Linked DNA regions of Homo sapiens: region 2 is linked to region 1. Evidence: fine-mapped expression QTL. Tissue or cell type: spleen. Region 1 holds a variant in brackets; the other region holds the start of a gene. All regions are shown on one strand. Distances are from middle to middle.

What was found. PIP is the estimated chance that this variant, and not a neighbour inherited with it, causes the effect.
Region 2: it holds the start of VPS28, and the variant in region 1 is fine-mapped to the expression of VPS28 in spleen (GTEx, PIP 0.93).

What each region holds. Positions count from the first base shown.
Region 1 is chr8:143,937,165-143,945,164 of GRCh38, forward strand. PLEC (plectin) reads right to left here and starts at 2,433. Exons shown (of 32, transcript NM_201384.3): 1 at 2,186-2,433; 2 at 1,467-1,528; 3 at 987-1,076; 4 at 1-78. The coding sequence starts at 2,297. LOC124902040 (a long non-coding RNA gene) reads left to right here and starts at 6,700. Exons shown (of 2, transcript XR_007061144.1): 1 at 6,700-7,006. RefSeq lists silencers at 2,050-2,149, 2,430-2,659, 4,907-4,996, 5,217-5,676, 6,747-7,016 and enhancers at 2,170-2,409, 2,820-2,879, 3,057-3,351, 5,897-6,146. The variant A/G (reference allele first, on the strand shown) is at 3,596.
Region 2 is chr8:144,424,920-144,432,919 of GRCh38, forward strand. It overlaps VPS28 (VPS28 subunit of ESCRT-I), which reads right to left and starts at 3,629. Exons shown (of 10, transcript NM_016208.4): 1 at 3,570-3,629; 2 at 1,990-2,060; 3 at 1,261-1,289; 4 at 1,107-1,144; 5 at 764-853; 6 at 27-132. The coding sequence starts at 2,026. TONSL (tonsoku like, DNA repair protein) reads right to left here. Exons shown (of 26, transcript NM_013432.5): 23 at 7,366-7,541; 24 at 6,159-6,232; 25 at 5,485-5,618; 26 at 3,856-4,417. The coding sequence ends at 4,224. RefSeq lists an enhancer at 961-1,724 and a silencer at 3,455-3,804.

The sequences.
Region 1 (8,000 bases):
CTGGCGGTGCCGGAGGTAGTCCAGGGCAATCTGGACATTCTGCAGCTTGTGGAAACGCATCCTCCCCTTCTCCCGGGGCTGTGGGGAGGCACAGTCAGCACCCACAGTGCAGCTGCAGCTCCCGGGCCCCACCCTCAGCATGCCCCAAAGCGCCGCAGCAACCGAGCCAAGGGTCTTCCCCAGGGGGCAGCAGCCCCTCATCCCAGGTTCACCCTCCCCCGCAGGGAAAGGGAGGCCACCGGCCCAGGGGCCAGGCCAGGCCCATCAGGGCTCGGGAAGTCCAGCGACCCAGGCTGAGGGAAGGAAGGAAGGGGTGGGAGGAGACAATAGCCAGGAAGCCTCGTGTGGAGGGCAGTGGCACTAAAGGGGGGGTCCTCCTGCCTGGCGGTGGCAGCCACAGCAGCCACCGGTGGGTCCCAGGCCAGCTCTGGGCAGCACGGTGGACGGGCAGCTTGACACCCAACCACCTACCCGCCCAAGAGCCAGGCAGGGGTTGGCCGACGGGCCACCAGCCCCCAGAAAGCCGGGCTCCACGGTCTTGGGGAGCTCCCGTGCCGCTGCAGCCGGCAGGCACAGCCACTCACCAGGCGTGAGCTCCTGCTTACGTCCCGCTCCCTCGGCTGCCCGGCCAGAGCAGGGCAAAGGGTAAAGGGCAGAGGTCAAGGTTCAGAGTCCAAGCAGCAGAGAAACCAAAGCAAAGCGGAGCATGAGGTTACTGTGTCCCGACGCGGAGGGCGGCAAGGCCCAGAGCAGCCGAGGTCCGAGGGTTGCGGCCACTCCCAGGCCAGGCCCTCGGCTGTGATGCCCAGCAGCCTGGGCGGGAGGTGCTGCCAGGGACGAGGCCAGCCTGCCCCCAGGGAGAAGGCAGGAGGGGTTGAGCTGGATTCCAAGTAGAGTGGGCGGCCGGAGAGGCCCCAAGGAGGGAAGGCAGGCAGAGGTCTCCAGGTGGGGCAGGCGGGGCCCGGAGGGGGCAGGGGCACACGTACCAGGCTGTCCCCCGAGAGGACCTCCAGCAGGGAGATGAGGTTGTGGCCATCGCGGAGGTCTTCATACAGGTCACTGATGTGCCTCTGGGCCTGTGGGGACAGCAGCGGCTGAGGTGGCCAGTCCCCCAGAGCCACCAATAGGCCCTGAGTGGCTGATCTACAGAGTGGGTGCTGGTCCCAGAGGGAAGGAGGCGGGGGCTGAGTCTCCCGGGAGCCCACGGAACACACCCTGCCCCACGGAGGCACCTACCTCTGCCCGCCAGTGCTGCAAGGAGAGACCAGGAAAGACCAGAAGGAAGAGGAGGAAGAGAGAGGCAGGAGCAGGCGTAGGGAAGAAAGAGGACAGAAAATAACAGGTTTCAGAGATGAAAGGTGAGCACACAGGCAGCATGGGGACAGCCTTGGGCGGCAGGGGCCACCCTCCCTCAGCGCCTCCCACAGCCTCAGCCCCTGTGACACGCACCAGCATGCGCCACCAACCTTGATGAGGTGCTTGTTGACCCACTTGGTGAAGGTTTTCTTCTGCACACGATCCCGCTCATCTGGGGGAGACAAGACCAGCTTACCTGGGGCCTGGGAGAAGCCCCGGGGGCCCTCAGGTGACCACCGTGCAGACACAGCAGCCTGGCTGGCCAGGTCCTGCCTGGGGAGCCCCAAAGCCTCCCTCAGATCACACACTGAGACCCAGGCGCCCTCACCCGCAGCCCAGCCACACAGCAGAGACCCAGGTGCCAGGGGCCCAGGCGCCACCAGGTGCAGCCACCCCACCCCGGACTCTTCCCCCGAGGAAATGGGAGGGTCCTGGGCGCACCCTGAGCCCAGGGCACACAAGTCCCGTCCTGCAGTCCCCCCCGGCCTCTACAGACTGAGACCCAAGCAGGGGTGTGGCAGAGCCAGGGCCCGGGCCCGCTGGGGTGTTGGAAGGGAAGCCGCGTGTGCTGCTGACAGGGCAGCGAACCTTCCCCAGAGCGCAGAGTTCCTCGCCCTTCCAGGCCCGACATCTGACGCTCGGAGGCCCCCGTCAGCCTCGCGGGCGCCTGTCGGCCCACTCCGTGTTGGGTGGGGATGGCTGGCCCCCGACCCCCATCTCCAAGACCAGCCCCCCAGCGGTGCCAAGGCTTTCCTGCCACAGGAAGTGGGCCTTCCTCCCGCAGGGGCCCGCCCTGCCTGGCGGGGGTGCCCGAGGGGAGCCCTGCTACCTTTCTTGCCCTCAGAGGCCCTGAGCACAGCCAGGTACAGGTTGTCCTCCGAGCTGGTTCTCTTTCGGCCCAGGCCCTCGGGCTGCGGCACGCGGAGCTGGTGCTGAGACATGCTGCCCCCACACCTTCGTCGCCCGGACCCTCGGCCTCAGGCACGGTGCTCTGGGCAGCCCCGTGTGGCACACAGGCAGCTGAAGGCTGGCGGCCCCACGAGACGCTCACTCGGCACAGGCTCAGCTCAGAGCCCCAGTCGGTGCGGCCACTCCCTGCCTGCTGTACTCCCCGGCGAGGCCGGCCCGCCCCCGAGGCCCCACCCTGCCCAGGCCGCCGCCAGGGAGGGGAGTGTCCCGGCGGGAAGGAGCAAGCAGCCCCCTCCCCCACAGACACGCCCTCGGCCCGCCAGAAACAGGAAACCGGGGTTTCCTCACCCACCCCGACCACTGCAGCCCCCTAGGGGGACCTGGGGACACGGGGAGCTGGCACTTCACTGCACACCAAATGGTGCCAGGACCGCAGAGGAACACAGGCCGTCCCCACAGCCACCCAGAAGGACCCCCCAACAGACTGAAGGGCTCCCCCGACGGGAGGGGCTCTGAGGCCACGCCTCTCTTTGGAGCTCCCTCCAGGCCTGGGCCAGGCCCTGCTTCAGCCTCTGCCCACCCACCCTGCCAGGGCGGACTCAAGAAGCCGCTGATACCTGGCGAGGGGAGGGGACCTGCTGCCTGTCAGCTCTTGCAGCCCCCCAATCACACCTCTTCACAGACCTGCATGAAGCGGGGAGCACACCCTGCCCCATGGTGCCTGCCCTGGCCCTGGGGCCAGTGGGGTCCCACCCCAGGCCTGGCCCCTCCCAAGCTGCCCACCTGGCACATCCTGGAGCAGTGCCCACCTGCGGAGCCCACCCTGCCCCAGGCAGACACCTCACGTCGGAGGCGCGTAGCTGAGGGCTGACTCACGGAGGCCGGGCCTCATGGGGGAATGGAGCATCGGGAAGCCCCAGGAGGGGCCTCGCCAGTGAGTCAGGGATGGGGAGGGGGCCCAAGCCTGTGACTCACAGAGGGGAAGCCACACCTGAGGCAGGACCTGGGCGACCCCAGGGGTGGGGGGTGCTGTTTGCAGCTGGGTGGGGCTCAAGGGAAGCAGTCTCATGCTGTAAAGGGCAAAGGGCAAAGGGCCTGCGCTGGCTGGGGCCTCCGGCTCCCTGGGGTCCGGGGCGGAGCTGCCTCTGGCCAGCTTCTGGGCCTGCCCAGCCCACCCGACCACCATAGGAAAGAATGCGCTGCCCCAACCACAAGAATGTTCCAGCCGCACATCAGGCAGATTCGGTCCAGCTGGGAGCTGCACTCGGCCTCAGTTCTGGGAAGAGCTCACCCCACCTCATTCCTACTGCCCCTGAGGCCGTGAGGGGGC[A/G]CCAGAACCCTCACAATGGGGGGTGCCCAAACCCCTCAGAGGTGGGGAAGCCCCCACTCCACGCCAAGGGGCACAGCCAGCCCCTAGGGCTCTGCCACATCGTACACGCCGCCCAACGAAGACACCCCTTGGTCTCCATGCATGGTCTCTGAGCCTGGCATGAGATTCAGGGTGACCCTCTTGCTCTGCCTGTCCGGCCCAGCAGCCTCCAGAACCTCAGGAGTCACCAGAAGCCCCCAAATCAAAATCTGACCCCGCACTGGTCAGCACCTCCAGTCTTGTGCCCAAGGGCACCCCGGACCCCACACCTCTGCCGCCCCTCCCTGGGTCCAAAGCCTCTGGAAACACTGTCGCCTCTTCAGAAGCCCTGGGCCAGCAGCTACCCTGAGGCCAAGCCCCGCGCCTGCTGGGTATGGGCTCTGGGGGCCCGGCCGTGACCAGGTGGCTCCTGCCTGCAGGAACGGGGCTGCCACTCTGCTGAGGCACAGTGTGAGATCCCGGAACAGCCAGGGAGGTGGGCACAGGGAGTCCACGACAGCTGGAAACTGGGAGCCGGGGCCAAGGTCCAGGACCCACGTGGAGCCCACCCCAGCCAGGCCCCTGTTCCAGCCTTCTCCCTGCCACTAACAGGCCTCCAAAGATGCCGCCCTGGGCCGGGCCAGGGTCAGGAATGGGGCAGGGGCTCAGGGAAGGGAAGGGGCACGGTGGGGACTCCAGACACGGACTCGGGCAAGGCTGGGACCGGGTGAGGAGAAGGGCTGGGGCGGGGCAGGGCTGGGACCAGGTGGGCTGGGGGCTCGGTCAGGGGCCTCCACCTCCCAAGCCTGGCTCAAGCTCCCCTTCCCTACTTCCTGCCTCTGGGTGCCTCTTTGCTCTGAGCTCTTCCCTCCTCATCACCTCCCCTCCCTCCCAGCCCAGCCTGCCCCGCCCCATCCAATCCTATTCTGACCCTAAAACCAACAGACACACCCGCCCCACCCAGCCAGGCTACACCCACCCTCTACAGCTGCAGCTCAGCTGGCTCTCCCACCTGGGACGCACCCAGAACACCCCCAGCTCAGGTGCCTCTGCACACCTGCCTGACACCTGTGCTGTCCAGGGCTGCTGACCCTCGGCCGCCAGCCCAGGGTCCCTCACGACAGGCACTGCCGTGGCCCTCTGAGGAGTATCGCCCCCGTTTTACAGGTGTGGACCCTATGGCTGAGGTCCCGCAGCTAGTGGAGACGGTCCTAGGATGGAAACCCCAAGACTGGGAAGGGAATCCCACTGGCCCAGGACTGCAGCAAGTCCACAGAAGGCCTGGAGCCCCGCCTTCAGCACCTCCTCCCTCCCCCGTGTCCTGGAAACCCAGGCCAAAGCCCAGGCTGACGTGGAACAGCCGGGGGTGGGCCAGCCCCGCCCCCTCCAGCCCCGCCCCCTCCAGCCCCTTCTCTAGAGACAAACAAATGGGGGTAGGGGAACATCACCCCGCCTTCCTCCCCAGGTGTTTCCGGAGCTCGGGGGCAAGGCTGCACCGGGCCAAGGCGCCACCCCCATCCCAGCCCAGGCGGCGGTTCCCAGCAGAGACCCAGCCCCACTAGGTGAGAGCGATGGTGGCCCCTTCTGTGCCACCGGCCACGCCACTGCACCCACCTACGCAGCACAGCTGCTGGTAGAGGTAGCCCCTGCGGGCCGGCTCGCAGCCCCCGTCCAGCCAGCACGGCCGCTCCAGCAAGACCTCCCTCGGCGAGGCAAAGGCGCCCCCCGCCCCCGACATGCCGGCCACGGCCGGAGCCCTGGTTCGGCCCACGGACAGTGCGGGGAGCTGGACCGCGGCGGCGCCTCTGCTTCCAGCCCACGCTGCGAGGCTGCCGGCTTCGCTCTCCACCTCTTCCACCTCCCCCCCACAATCCGCCCACTGCGGGAGCGAGGCCCAGACCCAAAGAACCTGCCCCTGGCGCGCAGCCCCGCCCAGCGCAGCCAGGAAGCCGCGCCCCAACCCACGGGCCGGGCTGGGAGGCTGCCCTGGGACTGAAGCGGCATGGGAGGGGGCCTCCCAGCAGGATGTGCGGTGGGGACTGCAGGGCCCAGGGAGGAAGGCAGGGCATGGGGCCAGGTGGTGGGCAGACAACGCTGGAGGCAGAACCGAGGAGCTGAGCCGCGTCTGGCACCACCAGGGAGTAGAGGCATCCTGTGAGCCAGGACCGTGGCCGAAGGGGGCAATTGTGGGCTGAGGTGGGGAGGCAGGGACAGTGTCTGGTCCCCAGCCAAAAACATGGATGGGGAAGAAGCCCTCAGCCCAAGTCCCATCCTGGCAGCTGAGTCCCCGGCAGCTCCGGGCGTCCCCAGCGCCACGCCTAGAAGCCCCATCTTGACTCATCTCAAGTCCGGGGATCCAGCAGAGGAGCTGAGCCAGGCAGCGCCCTCACTGCAGGAGAGGTCTGGCCAGCCAGGTCCCCGATAGGCAGTCCCTCTGGCCAGAAGCCCATAATTGAGGCTGCCCAATCCCCAGGGCCCCGCCCCATCCTGTGCTGGGCACGGTTGCCACCTGGGACCACAGCCCAGGAGCTGGTGACTTTGAGCAGGGAGGGCAGGGCACAGCCTGGCTGCCCCCGCCCCCTGTGCGGCCCGAGGGCATGAGGGCACCTGCCTCACCTGCGTGTGGCTCCACCCCCTGCTGTGTGTGCAGGGAGCCACCTCCACCTCAGTGCTGGCCGGACAGGCACCTGCCCACTTGTCCCTGCCACGGCGGCTGCCACAGGCCTCCCTTCGTGTGGGGGACGCTCCTGCCCTGCCGGCCTCCGCTTCCACCCACCTGTCCCGCACAGGCTGCAGGCTGAGGGCCACTGCAGAGCCCGCCCCGCCCTGGGACTGCAGCAGGGTCAGGGTCTACACTGCAGGGTGGGGTGGAGGGGCAACACTGCTTTCACTGACATTCAGCTTGGAAACAGGAAGGGGAGGGCGCAGGGAATGAAGGGGCGGGAGGCAGGCGGCCCCTCTGCCCCGCCTCGAGTCCCTGGCAGCCACCAGCGGGGCTTACCTTGCTCGTCCTGCGCCCACCGACGTCCCCTGCGCCAGTGCCACACAGCGGCCAGGGTGACAACGTGACCCACAACCACCAGGGAGGGAAACAGGCTGCCCGAGGGCTCCATAGCCGCCACGCGGAGCCGCCAGGGCTGCCCTTCCTGCGCTGGGAACCGGCTGCTCCAGGCTAGACAGCCCCCTCCCTGCGTGCAGGGCGAGCGAGGGGGAGCGCCGGGACCGGAGCCTGCCCTGCCCGCAGGACCGCCCCATACGCGGCGGCAGCCCCACAACAGCTCCCGCCCGCCTCCTCTCCTCCTCCCTCCGCGGGTCCGGCCCTCGGCGCCTCCCCACCCTCGCTCCCCACCCGGCCGGCTCAGCTGTCCCTGCGCAGGGCTACTGACGCTCAAGGTTAGTTGGCCTTAACCCCTGCGTCCCCGCGGCCACACCCGCCGGGAGGAGGGGCCAGCCGCACGCCTGGCCAAGCCGCAGCCCCCCAGCACTGCCCGCGGCCTCGGCACACACCCTCCCTCCCTCCCAGCCTCCCCCTGCTGTCCCCACCAGAAGAGGGGCCCGAGCAGCCCACTCTGCCTCCAAGGCTGCCCTCTGGGGACAGCTGGCAGGCATGGAGGGATGCCAGAGCCCCCACCTCAAGCCTGCAGCTGAACCCACTGCACTCCTTCAACTTCGCCCTCCTCACCAGCCCCAACACCCCAAAAGTGAGACTGCAGACCAGGGCTGAGGGGGTCTGGGTGAGGGCACATGAGGCAGGCTGTGTGCAGGGCGAGGGACAGCGCCCCTGGCCTCCAGCCTCAGCCCCAGCCCTCTGGCCCCTGTCCCCAGCAAGGGGCCAGGATTTCACAAGGCTTTCAAGGGCTGCCCACCTACCGGGCACGATCTTCATCGGGGACGGTGGCAGGAGCCCACGGGGCAGACGGAGCGGGCCAGGGGTGTGGGAGGTCACAGGCCCCTCGGAGGAGGCACAAGCCACTGGCGGCAGCGTCGGGTGGGAGGAGGGCACGGCCGTGCTGCTGTCAGCAGCAGCTTGTGGGGGAGGGGAGCAGTGGGCAGGGGCCCAGGGGATATAAATATCCGAGGAGGGCGCGCAAGGACCGTCACCACCCAGACTTGGAACATGACGCACGGCGCCAGGGCACCCAGGCCCCGCTGCAGTCAGGTCTGGCTGGACGGTGCCACCCGACACCTCGGTCCCCCAGCTCCCACAGGGGGTTCTAATATAATAGAGCAGGGCGCGGGAGGTGCGGGCTCACGTCCCTGCAGGAGGCGGTGCAGTCCCCACCCACCTGCCCTGCCAAGCCAGGGGGTGCTCTTGGAAAGGCCACAGGGGCCAAGAGAAGAGGCCGCCCATTCTCCCAGAGGGCCCTGCGCAGGTCACTCAACACAG
Region 2 (8,000 bases), 490 kb after region 1:
TGGGGGTGGAAGGACCAGGCACTCACGCGGAACTTGCGGCAGAATTCGTCAATAGAGCTGATTTCTGAGCCCTGGACCTGCCTGAAGGCAGCTTTGTATTGGACCAGGAGCCGGGAGCAGGCTGCAGTGTACCTAGGGAGAGGTCAGCTGCTGCCCAAGCATGGGACCAGCCCCACCCAGCTCATCCTACCCCCTCGGCTGGTCCAGAGGCAAAGCAGCTTCCAGAGAGGACCAGGCGACAGGCAAAGGCAGGCCGAGCAAGGAGGAGGGGCTGCTAGTAGCTTTTGGGGGTGAGGCCCTGAGCACGTAGTGGGGCTTGTAGCTCGGCTCCAGGTGGAGACCCCGGCCCCCAACCCCTGCCCACCCTCTGAACCACAGCGACCAGCCCTCTGTTGTGATGGCCGCATCCACAGCTCATGGTCCTGTGCGGTGGCCTGTGACGGTCTTGTCACTTCATTGAACAAAGCCCCCCCAAAAGATCCTGGGACATCCCCAAGCCTCTCGACCGTTTTTTAAGGTTGCCTGTGCTGGGGGATGAGGGTGGGGGAGTGGGCCGGATGACACCCCAGGAGCTGCGCCTCTGCCCGCCTCCCTCACCAGCCCCCAGGACTTCCCTGGCTGAGACCCAGGGGCACCCTCCTCACGCTGGGTGGGCCCCACACAAGTGGGTGCCTCCCAGCCTGACAGACGCCTGCTCTTGCTGCCTATGGAGCACCCAAGCCCCCCAGGGCAGGAACAGACCTCCCAGGACGTGGGCTCTTACTCGCTGGGGGAGACACAGTCCTTGATGTAGGCCTTCTCCAGGGCTTGCATTGTCTTCACCACCGCAAACAGCTCTGCCATGTTGTCGTACCTGAGGACACACCTGTCTATCGGGCCAGGCCCCGGGGTGCCAAGCCTAGAGCCCAGAGTGCTACCCCCTGCCCGGAGGTGCCACTGCGGGCGCTCTGCCCACCTCTTGCTCCATCCTGGAGTGCCTCAGGAACAGTTCCCCAGACTGACCCTGCGTCCTCCCACCCCTCAGTTTGGGGTGGGTCTGGAGGGGCTGCCCCAGGGCAGCCAGATGCGCATGGGTGTGTTGGGACAGCCTGGGCGCCTGGACTTACTTCTCCCTCTCCCGGGCGTTCTTGTACAACTTCACTTCCTGCCGGAGAGAGCGGGCTCTGTGGGCCAGTGCCAACAGGGGCTGCAGGACCCTGGTGAGGCCACACAGGCATTTGCTGTTGGCCAATGCCGGCCGGGTGGGCACCCACCACTCACCTCATACAGCTCCGGCTTGTTCCCAGGGGCTGCAAGAGAAGGCAGAGAGCTGGCAGGCTGGCCCCAAAGGGAACCCAAGGGCAGACTCCAGTCCCAGTCTCCATTTCAGTTCCTCCCTGAGGCCTCCCAGGCTGGGTCCCAAAGAGCCCAGAGGGAGCTGGAGCACAGAGGTTCCAACCTCACCCCTATCAGTGTGTGGGGGGACCTGATGATAACACCTCTGAGAAGCCGGGGGCCGCATGACAGGCCCAGCTCCCCAGCTCCACTGCGGCTCCCCGGGGGACCGCATGACAGGCCCAGCTCCCCAGCTCCACTGCGGCTCCCCGGGGGACCGCATGACAGGCCCAGCTCCCCAGCTCCACCATGGCTCCCTGGCGGAGTCACCTGCACAACAGTGGCCACGCCCTGCTCGTGGCTCATGATGCAGTGCCAACAAGGCTCACCACACACAGCCTCTCCCCTGGGATTGGTGACACAGGGTGCCCAGGACCCCCACCGTTCTGGCCACACCGAAGCTCATCATCTCTGCCCAGCAGGACCAAGCCAGTTCTGTCTGGAGGTTTCTGAGCCCTCAGTGCTCCTGCAATGAACTATTTAGCCCCTGGCCACCCCCAAGGCTGTACGAGAGCAGGGTCAGATACCTCCCCACCCCCGATCCCCAATACCCAATACTGCCCGTCAGCCCCTGCAGAAGCGGCTGAAAGCCTGCGCCCTTCCAGCCACACTCACCTCCTATGCCCGGCGTGGCTGGGATCCCATGAAACATCCTCTAGGCTCTGGGGGGGGCACAGCACTGAGACCTGGGGAGCAGAGCCAGGGCCGACTCAAAGATGGCCCCTAAGCCAGGCGCTGGCTCACACCTGTAATCCCAGCACTTTGGGAGGCCGAGGTGAGCGGATCACCTGAGGTCAGGAGTTTGAGACCAGCCTGGCCAACATGGTGAAACCCTGTCTCTACTAAAATTACAAAATTAGCCGGACGTTGTGGCATACGGTTGTAATCCCAGCTACTCAGGAGGCTGAGGCAGGAGAATCGCTTGAACCCAGGAGGTGAAGGTTTCAATGAGCCAAGACCGAGCCACTGCACTCCAGCCTGGGAGACAGAGCAAGACCCTGTCTCAAAACAAACAAACGAACAACAAAAAAAACCGACAAAAAAAGACAGCCCGTAAGTGCCAGGTCCTGGAGACCCAGGGCTCCATGAAGAGCTCTCCTAAGCTCAATAATGGTGAACACACAGGGTGCTATAGGGGCTACCAGAAAAAGTGAGGTACTATGGACACTCAGGAGAGCGGGGCGGGGGCTGCAGTGGAGTGTGGTTCAAGCTGGAGGTTGAGGGAGGTTATGAGGGCGGCAGGCAGCTGTTTGATGGCCCACGAGGAGAGTTTGGGGCACAGGAAACAACACACTTAACAGCCCGCCTTTAAGTAGGCATGAACTTGGAGGAACCAACAAGCTGAAGGTGCAGCTTCTCGAAAGAGGGGGTCCTAGGGAATGAAGATGGAGAGGTGCCCCTAGTTGGGCAGCGAGCTGTGGAGAAACAATGGGAGCGGGGCCCGTGGGAGGGTCCTGCCTAGCACGGAAGCTGGGCCAGCTCCAGACGTTCTCTCTTTGAAAGTGGAGCCGTCAGATCCGCCGAGGGATTTGAGATAGGATTAAAATAAAGGAGTTACGAACGACACCCCTGTTTTTGGCCCAATGGGCCGGGCAGTAAGATAAACTCAGACGGAGAGGGGAGGAGGAGCGGGCCTGGCGGGCAGGCGCAGGAAGCTCTCGGTGGAGAGGCCCGGGAGAGCAGCGCTGAGCCGGCTAACTGGGAGTGGACGGTGCTACCGGGGATGGGAGAAGAGCAGAAGTGAGGGAAGGCCGCCCGCGCCGAAGCCCTGGGGCGCCCCAGCCGAGGAAGAGCCGGGAAAGGGCGTCGCCGCTCATGTAGGTAGGGAACGTCTGGGTCAAGCTCTCCGAGGGTCGAGGCCATTGCGAGCCGCGGGGTGGGGACCGAGGCTGCTCGGCAGCCGTCACGGAGCCGCCAGGCAGGAGAGCGCCGAGGAGCCAACCGCCCCAACCACGCAGGAGCTTCTGCCTAACAGCGAAAGCGGACGTTCTGCGGCCACAAGCAAATGTGCAAAACAACCTCGCAGAGTGGACAACGAGCAAGGAAAGCCAGTTTCTAGAACATGCCAATAACGTGACTTTTGCGGCGCTCAGCCGAAGCTGTGCCGGGGCCTAGGCGCGCCCAGAGGGTGCCAGGCCCTGAGTCGCCTCTCCCCACTCTGCCCCTTCCCCGCCCACCGGCCGGGCCCCGGGTACCTGGACGGCTCGCGGTCGGGAAGATGGCGCCGGGGGCGGGGTGCGCTCGGTCAGCGACTCGGCATTCGCCCCTCATGTCTGCGCCTGCGCGCGTCGGGGCGACCCCCCGCCCCTCCGTCCCCATCGGCAGCTCGGCGCTCAGCCCTCACGCCTGCGCCCGCGCCCGCCCGGACTTCGGGACATTCCCTCCAGCCGCGCAGCCCCCGGGACGTAACCGGCGCAGCAGACTCGAAGCCCGGTCTTACCCCGCCCACCCGCCTGCCAGGCAGCCACGGGGAGGGAGGCAGCAGCTTCATTTATTTTATTTTTTTTTTTTTTTGAGACGGAGTCTCGGTCTGTCGCCCAGGCTGGAGTGCAGTGGTGCGATCTCGGCTCACTGCAAGCTCCGCCTCCCGGGTTCACGCCATTCTCCTGCCTCAGCCTCCGGAGTAGCTGGGACTACAGGCTTCCACCACCACGCCCGGCTAATTTTTGGTATTTTTAGTAGAGACGGGGTTTCACCATGTTAGCCAGGATGGTCTCGATCTCCTGACCTCGTGATCCGCCCGCCTGGGCCTCCCAAAGTGTTGGGATTACAGGCGTGAGCCACCGCGCCCGGCCAGCAGCTTCATTTATTAGGGGCTTCGGTGAGGGTGGGGAAAGGCAGCGCCAGGGTCAGAGGCGCCGAAAGAAGAGCTTGGAGCCGTGGTCCAGCGTGCACTCGCCGGGGCCCGGCCGACTGGGCTGCAGCTGGCGCAGGGCGTCCCTGTCCTCAGCGCAGAGGCGTCTGCTGCACAGCTGCAGTTCCCGGAGCTGCGCGGCTATCTTGTCCCACAGGCCCAGGCCCAGGGGACCCTGGACGGCGCAGCCTGCGGAGGGGAAGAGGGCAGACCTCAGCGCTGCGGGGGCCGGCGGCGTCCTGGTGCCCGCGGCAGGCTCCAGGGAACAAACTCGCTTTCGCTGAGGGCCCCAGGGCTGTAGCGAGGGGCAGTGGGCAGAGCTCCGGAGAGGCCCCATGACTCTCCAGGAAGGGGTGGGATCATCTGCACAGCCAGCGGTCAGACAGGAGGAAGGGTGGCTCCCTTCTTTACCTCTGACAGTGCCCGATCTCAAAGTCCATGCCTACACGTCAGTCTCCCCACCCATAAGAAGGACATAATGGATCTGCTTGCAAATCTGTACATCGTGGGCCTGAGTGGATCAAGAGAACACTAAGCTCAGGAATTCAGGGAGCTGGGTGGGAAGGTACAGATGCCAGGAACTGAGGTGTGGGGAAGGGGTCTCACACCAGCACTCGGGGGCCTTCCTGGAAAAGGCGGCCTGGCCCTGGGAGGTGAAGGGGAGGGGGCACAGGAAGAAAGCAGAGCCCCGCTTCGTGCACATTCACTTAAGCCCTCATCCCCTGGAGGGCACAGCCTGCCCCGGCCCCAGTGGGGCAAGCCAGGTCATCAAAGCCCTTCCTGGGGTTGTCTTCCAGACAGCTCAGGTTGGGGACTGCCCTGATGTGGCTCAAGAGAGAACAAGCTAAATCAGACCACAGCCCTGGGCAGGGTTGTGTCAGAGGAGCCCCTGCCAGGAAGTAGGAGGGTCCCTTGGCAGCTTTCAACACCCTGACCTTGGGATCCCTTTTCCTGCCAGGGACAAGAAGAAAGTCCCTGTGGAACAGGGTCTTGCCTACCATAGTCTGCTCTGAAGGTTGGGTTGGAGAGACCAGAGGCAGATACCCACCTCGCCCCCTAACCCATGGTTTTAGGAGCTGGGATCATGCCCCTTTTCTGTCACTGTCACTCTGCCCCCTGCTGCCCCAGCCTCATGGAGCCCAGCCTTGCTGCCTGGCTGGTAGCAGTGACAGCCCCTTAGGAGGAGGCACCTGGGTCTCAGGCAGGTCCCTGAAAAGGCCGAACATGGCAGGCGTGGCCACCATACCAGCACTCACCTGACAGGCCAAGGAAGCTAAGGCCTTGGGGCCGCTTTTGGAGGGTGGACAGGAGCTCTTCCAAGCTGGCACAGCTGATCTCAGGGTTGGCAGACAGATCCAGTGAGATGAGTGAGGGGCACAGAGAGAGACATCTGAGATAACATGGGAAGAAGTGCAAAGGTTGGCTTCCAGAGAGGCTGTGCCCCAACACTAGGAAAGCTGCCCAGACAAATGCCAGCTCAGGGAGCCTCGGGCCAGACCCAGGGGCTCTGCCTCAGCCTGGCCCAGTAGCAGGTGGCCCTCTAGGGTTGGGGGTCCTTCCCAGGGGTCAGGGCCACAGTGGCCAGCTCTGGGTGTGCCTGGCCCAGCTTGGGCTCCTCTCAACACTCCCCAGAGAGCTGACTGAGGCTCCAGGTCATAAGAGCAGTGCCCTCATGTGGGCCGAGGCACAGGAATGACAAGGACACCCCCGGAGGAGTGCTCTCAAGAGCCACAGGCCCATGCTAAGAAAGAAGCCAGAGGGTAGTCTGCCTTCCAGGGCAGCCTGAGAGGCTGGTGGAAACCGAAGGAGCCAGGTCTTGGGATGTGCTGGGGAGGAGGAGCTGGTACCATTTCTGTGGCCCTTCTCCCATAGGGTCCAGAGCCATGAGATCAGACCCCCAGGTCAGCAGGCAGCAGGGAAAGGGCGTTACCTGCACAGGTCTCTAACAGCCTTGTCCCCCAGGTGGTTTGCAGACAGGGTCAGGTGGGCTAGAGCACAGCCTTCCTGGACATGAGCAGAGGCCCAAGGGGGCCAAACGGAGTGGCGCACCTGCCCTGCCTGCTTCCCAGCAGGTGCACCACACCCAGGGGCCCAGAAGGGAGCAGAGTCCCCCATCAAGTTGGAGATCGGAAGGAAACACCTCTCCTGATGTGGGTCACACTCTGCACGTGATAGTGTGAAAATAATAGGGTCCCAGTTGTGCCTGGAAGACCCCCCAGGAGAGAGCATCAGGGGCCCTAGTGTGCCCCTTGGGACCTTCCTGGCGGGGGGCAAGATCACCCTGAGTCCCGGGTCCTATCTGGTGGGCAGGAATTCACAGCCTGAGACAGGCAGCTGTACAAAAGCATTCCCCCAGCTGTTTTTTTCTTTTTTTGTTTTTTTTTTGAGACAGAGTCTCGCTCTGTCGCCCAGGGTGGAGTGCGGTGGCGCCATCTCGGCTCACTGCAAGCTCCGCCTCCCGGGTTCACGCTGTTCTCCTGCCTGTCTCCCAAGTAGCTGGGACTCCAGGAGCCCGTCACCACGCCCGGCTAATTTTTTGTATTTTTTAGTAGAGATGGTGTTTCACCATGTTAGCCAGGATGGTCTTGATCTCCTGACCTCGTGATCCGCCCGCCTCGGCCTCCCAAAGTGCTGGGATTACAGGCGTAAGCTACCACGCCCAGCCTGTTTTTTTCTTTTTCTTTCTTTTTTTTTTTTTTTGAGACGGAATCTCGCTCTGTCACCCAGGCTGGGTGCAATGGTGCAATCTAGGCTCACTGCAACCTCTGCCTCCCGGGTTCAACCAATTCTCTGCCTCAGCATCCCGAGTAGCTGGGATTACAGGTACCCGCCACCACGCCTGGGTAATTTTTGTATTTTTACTAGAGACAAGGTTTCACCATGTTGGCCAGGCTGCTTTTGAACTCCTGACCTTGTGATCCACCCCCTTCGGCCTCCCAAAGTACTGGGATTACAGGCGTGAGCCACCGCGCCTGGCCCCCCAGCTGTTTTTTCTAAACCTCCAAACCTCTAACTCTCTCTGTAGAGCCCCTCAGCGAGTTCAGCCCGAATCTGGGGAGAGGCGAGCTCCTCCCAGCAACCCTGGGACCTTTGGCCTCTGAGGCTCAGTATTTTCTGGGTTCTTCCCCACCTCGTACCTTGGCCAGGTATCGGAATACAGGCTCCATGAGGTCCGAATCACCCTTGCCGGCTGCCACGGAGCTGAGCTCTAAGTGCAGGAGGGTGCCGGCGGGCAGGCTCTGCAGGGTCCTGGCCAGGGCAGGGGCTCCCAGGGCGTTGTAGGACAGGGACAGGGTCTTCAGGTGCTCAGCATCTGCACCGGGGCCAGAATCCGTCAGCCCCACGTGGCCACAGCCCTGTACCCACCCCAAGTTCTGGGCCCAGAACCCTCAGGACCCCTTTGGGGAAACCACTACCGCAGTGCTCGCAGGGTGGGGTGGCAAGTGCAGAGGCAAAGGCTCTCGCCCAGATTCTCCCAGCTGGGAGGGCGGGGCCAGACTTCCAAGCTCGGCTGCCCCCAGTTCTGGACAACTTGCCCTCTCCCACCCCACAACCACACGGTCCTGGGCCACATGCCTCTGCACAGTGGGGGTGCCAGGGGAGTGCACTGACCATTGCTGCCCCCCTTACACTCCCCCTGGATGACACCCAATTCCCAGCCTCTTGGCACTGGGACCCCAGTCTCTGCAGCCTGAGTGGGCTCACAGTGGAACTGCCTCAGGCGAACAGCACTCAGCTGGCGAGCACGGGATGGGGACCACAGGACACTAGC